Regions from separate parts of the Homo sapiens genome. Here regions 2 and 3 are each reported to be linked to region 1. Evidence: microRNA targets listed by miRTarBase, many of them from high-throughput screens and not tested one by one. Region 1 holds a microRNA gene; each other region holds the end of a gene's coding sequence.
The links. The annotated mature microRNA hsa-miR-4509 reads ACUAAAGGAUAUAGAAGGUUUU and lies in region 1 at 1,992-2,013, opposite strand. An mRNA with a match to its seed (bases 2 to 7 or 8) in the 3' UTR can be bound and repressed. Matches are read on the target gene's strand: a 7mer-m8 pairs with bases 2 to 8, a 7mer-A1 pairs with bases 2 to 7 and ends in A, and an 8mer does both.

Region 1 (3,268 bases):
AAAGCCACAGAGGCAGAGCTGCCCAAGGCCATGGGAGACCACCACTTGCGTCAGTGTGACCTGCATGTGAGACACGGAGTCAAAGGAGATCATTTTGGAACTTTAACGTTTAATGACTGCCCTATTGGATTTCAGACTTGCATGGAGCCTGTAGCCCCTTTGTTTTGACCAATGTCTCCCATCTGGAACAGGTGTAGATACACTGGGGGTACCCAATGCCTGTACCCCCATTGTATGTAGGAAGTAACTAACTTGCTTTTAGTTTTACAGGCTCATAGGTGGAAGGGACTTGTCTCAGATGAGACCTTGGACTGTGGACTTTTCAGTTAATGTTGAAACGAGTTAAAACTTTGGGGGACTGTTGGGAAGGCATGATTGATTTTGAAATGTGAGAACATGAGATTCAGGAGGCGCCAGGGGAAGAATGATATGGTTTGGCTATGTCCCTACCCAAATCTCATCTTGAATTGTAGCTCCCATAATCCCCATATGTCATGAAAGGGACCCAGTGGGAGGTAACTGAATCATGGGGATGGGTTTCTCCCTGTGTTGTTCTTGTGAAACCGAATAAGTCTCACAAGATCTGATGGTTTTATAAAGGGGAGTTCCCCTGCACATGCTCTCTCTCTTGCCTGCCACCATGTAAGACATGTCTTTGCTCCTCCTTTGCCTTCTGCCATGATTGTGAGGCTTCCCCAGCCACGTGGAACTGAGTCCATTAAACCTTTTTTTCTTTATAAATTACCCAGTCTCAGGTATTTCTTCATAGCAGTATGAAAGTGGACTAACACAGTATCAAACCCTGGTTTGGGGTAATAATCACTACCTTCTAGGTAACCAGAATGGAAAAAATATAACAGAAAAAAAATCCTAAAAATCATCCTGCGTACAAGAAAAATGAAACTGTATGCTGAATTCTCAGGGGGAGAAAACGTATTTAAAAATATATGACTTTCAAACCACAAGAAACTATAGACCATTGCTTTAAACTATTTGTCTATGAACAGTATGTAGAAACACATGGAATTTAGGAAATAGGAGATGAAGGCTACAATAACAAAAGAGGCTCATATCACAAAATGGGAGATAGCTGAGATGAGGCTTCTATGAAAACTAAAGTGCAAGGGCAGATTTTCCATCCACAGGGAAATCCGTGGAGAAAGAAACTGACACACTGAAAAGTTCAAGCAGCAATTGAATCAGAGCTCTGGAGGGCAAAGGAAGAGATGAACTAATGACAGAGAAGAAGGCGGATGGGTATGCCAGAGACCACAGGTTCCACCTCGAGAATAGTTTGTGTACTGGGGAAAGACACAAGGGCAAGGAGATCTGAAACAATAATCAAAGCTATCACTGAAGTACGAATAATAAAAGCACCAACCAGCTTCTAGGCAGGGAGGGGGAAGAAACAAGGAAGAGTTCTCCATATTTAAATAACAACTAGCCAAACTCCTGAATTTTACAAATAAATAAAAAAACTTCCTTAAAAATAAAAAGTCAGGCTTAGATAAGACTTTTTTTCTTCTCTGTTAACATTATTAGAAGACATAAAGATTTTAAGAGAATAAAAATATGATCAAGAGGATCATAAATATCAGGTTGTCTTTACCTGAGTACGAAGCAATGGCATCTGTATATCCAGCACTGATTTGTCCTTCCAATAAAAATTTACTCAAAGACATATGGGTACATATTAGAAAAATAATCAAAATTAATATTTCAAGGATTAGGAAGTTGTGAAGCCAAAATCCTGCAAGGGGACAATTGATTCAGTTAATGGAAAGATTTATTTTTCATATTTTATGATTATTTACCAAAATAATATTTTTAAAGTATAATTATAAAATAAAAATAAAATATTTAACAATACTATAATTATAATCATGTTCCAAGTTATAAAACAAGATAGTGAGAATTGTCAGTAAGATAGTAAGAATTCTAATACTATCTCAAAATAAAGGATACAGAAGGTTTCAGGGCAAGAGAAAGGGAAAACCTTCTATATCCTTTAGTTTGAGATAGTATTAAAGCTTTCTGTAGGCTCACTCAAAATGTCCGGATTCTGACCACATTTGAATGAGCACTCCCAACCTGACGATTCCTAGTCTAAGCCACACATATTTCCTCTTATGGTTATTGCAAAAGCTCCCTAACTGGTCTCCCAGCTTCTGCCGTTGATTCCTTTCAGCTATTTTTTACACAAGTGCCAGAGAAATCTCAGAAATGCAATTCAGATGATATCACTTCTTTGCTTATATCTTTCAATGTTGTTCCCCTCTACGTGTTCATGTATTCTCCCCTTTGACTCTCGCTTCTAAGTGGGAACATTTGGTTTTCTGTTCCTGCATTAGTTGGCTAAGGATAATGGCTTCCAGCTCCATCCATGTTCCTACAAAGGGCGTGATCTCATCTTTTATGGTGGCATAATATGCCATGGTGTATATATACCACATTTTCTTTATCCAGTCTACCATTGATGGGCATTTATGTTGATTCCATGCCTTTGCTACTGTGAATAGCGCTGCAATAAACATATGCATGCATGTGTCTTTATGACAGAACAATTTATATTCCTTTGGGTGTATACCCAGTAATAGGATTGCCGGGTCGAATGGTAGTTCTTTTAGGTCTTTGAGGAATCACCACACTGTCTTCCACAATGGCTGAACTAATTTACACTCCCACCAACAGTGTAGAAATGTTGCCTTTTCTCCACAATATTGCCAGCATGTTATTTTTTGGCTTTTTAATAATAACCATTCTGAATGGTGTGAGATAGTATCTCATTGTACTTCTGATGTGCATTTCTTTAATGATCAGTGATGCTGAGCTTTTTTTCTATGTTTGTTGGCTGCATGTATGTCTTATTTTGAAAAGGAGGGTGAAAGCTGGGAGGAGGGAGAGGATCAGGAAAGACAACTAGTGGGTAGCAGGTTTACCATGTGGGTAACAGAATAATCCGTACAACAAACCCCCATGACACAAGTTTACCTACATAACAAACCTGCACGTGTACCACTGAACTTAAAAGTTAAATTTAAAAAATAAAAAATAAAAAAATCTTTCAATGGTCCCATGTCAGTTTGAGGAACAGCCAAAGTCCTTAAAATGACGTACAAGGTGCTCGTTCCATCATCCGTCTTCTCATGTTTATTTCTCTGCCACCATCTACTAATACTCTTCCCCCTTCTCATTCTACTCCAGCTATAATGGCTTCCTCGATGCTGTTCTAAGAATAAGTCCACATGATTCCGACTCAGGGCTTTTG
Region 2 (3,000 bases), not on the chromosome of region 1:
GATAGTTGGCACCACATGGTGCCACATTGATTTTTATCAGGTAATTATTTTTGTCAGGTAATGTGGGGTGATACAGTAATGGATAACAACTACAAGTACGTTATGCTAAATGGGTCATGAAACACTTTAAGAAGGACAGAAAGACATACCAAAAAAAAAATGAGAGACAGTGTCTCACTCTGTTGCCTAGGAGTGCAGTGGCACAATCATAGCTCACTGTAGCCTCTTAACTCCTGGGCTCAAGCAATTCTCCTGCCTCAACCTCCCCAGTAGCTGGGACTACAGGTGTGCACCACGCTTGGCTTTTTTTTTTTTTCGAGATGGAGTCTCACTCTTTCGCCCAGGCTGGACTGCAGTGGCACGATCTTGGCTCAATGCAAGCTCCGCCTCCTGGGTGCACGCCATTCTCCTGCCTCAGCCTCCCGAGTAGCTGGGACTACAGGTGCCCGCCACCGTGCCCGGGTAATTTTTTGTATTTTTAGTAGAGACAGGGTTTCACCGTGTTAGCCAGGATGGTCTCGATCTCCTGACCTCGTGATCCACCCGCCTCGGCCTCCCAAAGTGCTGGGATTAAAGGCGTGAGCCACCGCACCAGGCCTACCAATTTCTTAAAAACTTTAGTAACAAGACTGCAGTAGAAATTGCTATATGAATGTATAGGGTTTGCTCATTTGAAGTAAAACCATTATGACAAACCTGAGAATATCAATTTACTACCATTAGCAAAAAAGAATAACCATTTATTGGCTGGGTGAGCACTCCCAACACTTTAGGAGGCTGAAGTGGGAGGATCACTTGAACCCAGGAGTTCAAAACCAGCCCGGGCAACATAGGGAGACTCACTCTGTACAAAAAATTTAAAAATTAGCCAGGTGTTGTAATCCCAGCACTTTGGGTGGCCGAGGCAGGCGGATCACGAGGTCAGGAGATCGAGGCCATCCTGGCTAACACGGTGAAACCCTGTCTCTACTAAAAATACAAAAAACTAGCTGGGCATGGTGGCGGATGCCTATAGTCTCAGCTACTCGGGAGGCTGAGGCAGGAGAATGGCGTGAACCCAGGAGGTGGAGCTTGCAGTGAGCCGAGATCACACCACTGCACCCAGCCTGGGCGACAGAGTGAGACTCCGTCTCAAAAAAAAAAAAAAAAAAAAAAAAATTGGCCAGGTGTGGTGGCACTTGCCTGTAGTCCTAGCTGCTTTGGAGGCTGAGGTGAGAGGATTGCTTGAGCTCAGGAGTTGGAGGCTGCAGCAATCCATGATTGTGCCACTGTATTCCAGCCTGGGCAACAGAGTGAGACCCTGTCTCAAACAAAACAAAACCCACAAAACAAAAAAGAATAACCATTTATTAAAGTAGATACAGAACACTTGTTTGGCCAAATTTTAATACTGCTTTACATGTTTTCTGTTTGTGAAACAATTCGTATTACATTTATAACCAAAAATTTCAACTGGTACCAGATTGAATATTCACTGTCGAACACACAGTTGATAATCTTGAGGGGAAAATACATCAAAGGCATATATACAATTATAGAAGTTCTTATTGTACATGTAGCATGGAAGATACATTTTATGACTTTTTACATATTCTAGAAGACATTCAAATGAAGATAAATAGATTCAAACTGGTCGATAAACTGTTCAGGTGCTTTGAGGTCCTTCATTTTCTTTTTTGTGATAAGAAAATCCAGAATTATTAACGTTGAATTTCTCATCGTACATTCATCTAAAAACAGTAAAAAAACTTGTGAAGGGAGATTGTAGATTGGTTATTTAGGTGTTTTATACTGGCTTATTGTTAATTGACTGCTGGGGATACCTGCCAGAGAAGGAAAAAAAAATTGGAGAAAATTCCTCCAGTTATTTAAATCTGGTGAAGAAATAAAAGGAAAACAAACAAATGAAAATGGTTGCAAAGCCACAAGATGCTATGTCTGGCCTAGTCTGTTATGTCCTAATGATCATTTTAAGTGTTTTCTTTTTCAAAAAGGTAAATGTCCAAAAAGAAAGACACATTGTGTATGTTTTTTTCCCAAAATATAGATTTTTAAAAAATATATACATACAATATATAGAAGCTGAAATTATGCAAAACTAATAAACAAAACACCACAGTAGATTAAGTGGGTGCAGCATATAGATTATAAAATGTCCCCACAGCAGTTTGGGGGCTTGCCCCTCCCTTTACCTGCTTCATGATTTTATAATCACACCTAAGTATTATCAAGCCTGAAGTAAAGGCACTACTGATAACAGGTAGTGCAAAGAGCTCAGATATTTCTTTGAATAAGAATAAAATACTTTAAATGAGTAGATGAAAATGCAAAATGGCACATTTTTTCAACTCATTCCAGTGTCAAAGCTTAACCAAAAAATCTAAATATACAAATGCAGCCTGGAAATATCTTAGTGCAAATATGAAAAGTAACGGCATAATTTAAAGTTACTTAAATAAGGTATTGTGAGGGTAGGGGTTTTTCTACAAGGTCGGGGGGCCAATAAATGTAATGGCATCTGGTGCAATGTCTTCAAACGTAAAAATCAAGAAAACAAAATTCGAGGTGAAAACTCACCTACTAAATATTTATTATTCTAACTCATACGGGGAGACTAAAGGGCAATTTGTTGAAGATCAAAATATTTTCCTAGATTTGTTGACGGGGTTAAAAAATAACATGAGTTCTCCTGAAGTCTGCACACACAATGCTGGTGTTACGTTGTGTCAATGCGAGTGCGTCTGAGCAAGCCCAGTTCTCCACTGGAGGCTTCATCAGAAGGTTTCGTCGTCATTGCAGTTGGTGGCCCAGTGTCCAAACATCTCACAGATTTCACAGTATGGGCGTTCCTCACCCCGACTGCCATGGTGTGTGGAATGGGGAGGGTCCTCTGACATCTGTGCCTGGGTAGGACAATCCTCTGTGTCGTGGAGATCAAAGCAGTCACAAATGTCACAGAAGAGGCGAGGTTTCTTCTTGGACTGTTTCTCCTGATCATCA
Region 3 (3,000 bases), not on the chromosome of region 1:
GATGCAACTGGGAACCTGGTATTTGCCAATGCGGGAGGAGCCCCCAACATCGTGACTGCCCCTCTGTTCCTGAACCCTCAGAACCTCTCTCTGCTCACCAGCAACCCTGTTAGCTTGGTCTCTGCCGCCGCAGCATCTGCAGGGAACTCTGCACCTGTAGCCAGCCTTCACGCCACCTCCACCTCTGCTGAGTCCATCCAGAACTCTCTCTTCACAGTGGCCTCTGCCAGCGGGGCTGCGTCCACCACCACCACCGCCTCCAAGGCACAGTGAGCTGGGCAGAGCTGGGCTGCCAGAAGCCTTTTTCACTCTGCAGTGTGATTGGACTGCCAGCCAGGTTAATAAACTGAAAAATGTGATTGGCTTCCTCTCGCCGTGTTGTGAGGGCAAAGGAGAGAAGGGAGAAAAAAAAAAAAAAACCACACACACCCATACACACATACCAGAAAAAGAAAGAAAGGATGGAGACGGAACATTTGCCTAATTTTGTAATAAAACACTGTCTTTTCAGGATTGCTTCATGGATTGGAGAACTTTCTAACCAAAAATTAAAAAAAAAAAAAAAAAAAGAAACAAAAAAATCAAAAACAAACAAAAATAAGTGAAAGGACTACTTATCATTTCCAGCAGTCATGATGACAAGTTAAGGTGGGTTACCAATTCCAATATAGGAAGGGGATTTCTTGTTTGTCTAAATTTCTTTTTTTCTTAAAAAAAAAAAATCATTTTTATGGGTCTGTTGTACAGGCCATTAAGTCATAACAAGGTGTTTATAATCGTATCAATTGTGTTGGGGGTTCCTTTCTTAACTGGTACAATTTAGGCAGGCCTGTATTACTGTATTATTATTGTTGTTGTTGTTATTGTTTTATATATATAGTTTGGACATGTTTATTATCTCTTGCTCCTGGATCCTATTTCAGTGAGCTCCCACACTGTGGGGAGGGAGGGTTTTGGGGTAAGGGGAGACTTCTGTTCTTAACTGTGGGGAATGTTCTTGCTGGTTTCCTTATCCTTGATGACTCTTACAGAGGTGCTAGAAAATTATTTTCTTTTGCCACTTATGCAAGAGGCTTGGTGCAGAAGCTGAAGGCAGTGTGTGCAAACACTCCCATTCCACACACGCCCCTTCCCCTCCCCACATCAGGTGGTGCCTTTGGAGCACTTTTGTGTAGGAAGGAATTCCTGCTGAACTGTAGCTCTCACTCACCCCCAAATCATTGAATGACCCTGAGGCCCAGTTCCTGTGGTGCAACAGTGCTGCTTTCTGCTACTTTCAATGGGAACAGCTGTACATGTTGCAGGGCAGGATTTGGTTCCCAAGAGCAAAGACTACTGCAGACACCTGACTTGGTGGTTCTCCTGATTTCTTATCTCCTGAAAAATGCTCCTGCTGTTGGTGTGTTTGTTTGTTTGTTCCATTTTGTGGAAGTTTTTCATCCAAACTTTAACTAACTTGGCAAAGAAAAAAAACTGACTTACTGAAATTGGGAAACTTTTCCCTTCTTTTATTTTCTAAAGGAATTCTACTAGACTATTTTCCATTGATAATATATACAAAAGAGGTGTGATGAGAAGGGTATAAGGTTACCACCTTTTCCTCTAGAGAGCCACAGACTTCCTTTCCACTGGATGGTTTATAAATTCCTCTAACCCTGAGATTCTTCTTGGTTCTCTGACTAAAGGAGGCACTTATTAGCCGGGCTGGGATCTGTAGAACCTTTGAAGAAGGACTTTGAGCAGGAACTTTGCACACACCTTAAGTGTCTCCTTGGTTTGTTCATGATGCTCCTGCTAGGTAGGTCTAAATGGCAATACACATCTCTTTATTCAATGTAGAAAGTAATTAGCTCTGTAATTATTTTCAGGGTGTTTGTAGACTATATAAATGAGCCCATTGAAAAGGAAGAGTTTGTGAAAGTGGATGAAGAGGAATAAGGGTAACTTGGAGATTAAATTCCTTTTTTTGTCAGTGTACTGTTGTTATGCCATCTGTACCAAAAAATTTTCCAAAAGACTGGATCACTGCAGTGCAGCTCATCTAAGTTCCCCTTCTTATTGGAGTTAAAGGTTCCCATTTGGTGGCTGTGGGTGCTTGCTTAAATCTCTGGTGGTCCCAAGACTGCACTTTTTCTCCCTTTCGAGCTGGGGATGTAGAGAGAACTTACAGGTGATTTTTATTCTGATTGCTTTTGTTTGTGTCCACAAGGGAGCTTGGATTCTGTGTACTTGTCTCTTTCCCATTGTCCAGTAAGGCAGTAAATACAGACACAATGTGTACTTTTGTGTGTGATTCAAGTGGGAGACAGTCTGTTAAAAGGTCAGAAACATTTTAGTCCCCTTTAAAATATTTCTTTTAGTTTATTTCTATCGTGTTTTATTTCACAGATATTTAATTACCACCCCTAAATTTCCTCCTCTTACCCTTCACCTTCCCTAAAATCCTTCCAAAATCAGTGAACTGCAAGCAGGGAAACTAACAAATGTCCATTCACCCTTTTTGTGTGGTGTGTTTTTTTATGTTTTGTTTTGTTTTTTAACTAAGCTTGAACCAAAGTCAATTTTTAGCAAGCTGCTGTACTAATGGACTAGTTGATAACGTGCAGTTCAGACACATCGAGGAGATAGATGCTACTGACAATTTCTTTTTCATTTGTCTTTATTAATTTTATATGAAAGTTGCTGCTTGTTTTTAATCTTTTATGTTGGTAAATTGTGATATCCTCTGGGCAGACATTAACTTGATGTTTAACTAGTTTATTAGGTTGGTGTGTAAATAGAATGACAATGTCAATTACTAATTTCTCTCCTCTCCATTCACTTTTTCTCTGTTGTAGTTAAATTTAATCTTCTATCCTGACTTGACATCTCTACCTTTAGTCTGTGGAAATGATTTTAGGGCTATCAGTAATGCTGTAGCTGCCCATAATAATGAGTCCCTCCCTTGGGAGTGGTGAAACTTAGAAGGAAGGATTCAGGGAGGGAAATGCTGGTACCCAG

Region 2: the mRNA of CLIP1 is a reported target of hsa-miR-4509. Seed matches in the 3' UTR shown: 7mer-m8 at 2,615-2,621.
Region 3: the mRNA of POU2F1 is a reported target of hsa-miR-4509. Seed matches in the 3' UTR shown: 7mer-m8 at 2,874-2,880.

The regions. Positions count from the first base shown.
Region 1 is chr15:23,196,589-23,199,856 of GRCh38, reverse strand. It overlaps MIR4509-1 (microRNA 4509-1), which reads right to left and starts at 2,030; the gene lies at 1,937-2,030.
Region 2 is chr12:122,270,101-122,273,100 of GRCh38, forward strand. CLIP1 (CAP-Gly domain containing linker protein 1) reads right to left here. Exons shown (of 26, transcript NM_001247997.2): 26 at 1,369-3,000. The coding sequence ends at 2,775. Among named protein-coding and RNA genes, the nearest start is that of VPS33A, 5.1 kb to the left of the region's middle.
Region 3 is chr1:167,415,538-167,418,537 of GRCh38, forward strand. POU2F1 (POU class 2 homeobox 1) reads left to right here. Exons shown (of 16, transcript NM_002697.4): 16 at 1-3,000. The coding sequence ends at 273. Among named protein-coding and RNA genes, the nearest start is that of CD247, 100 kb to the right of the region's middle.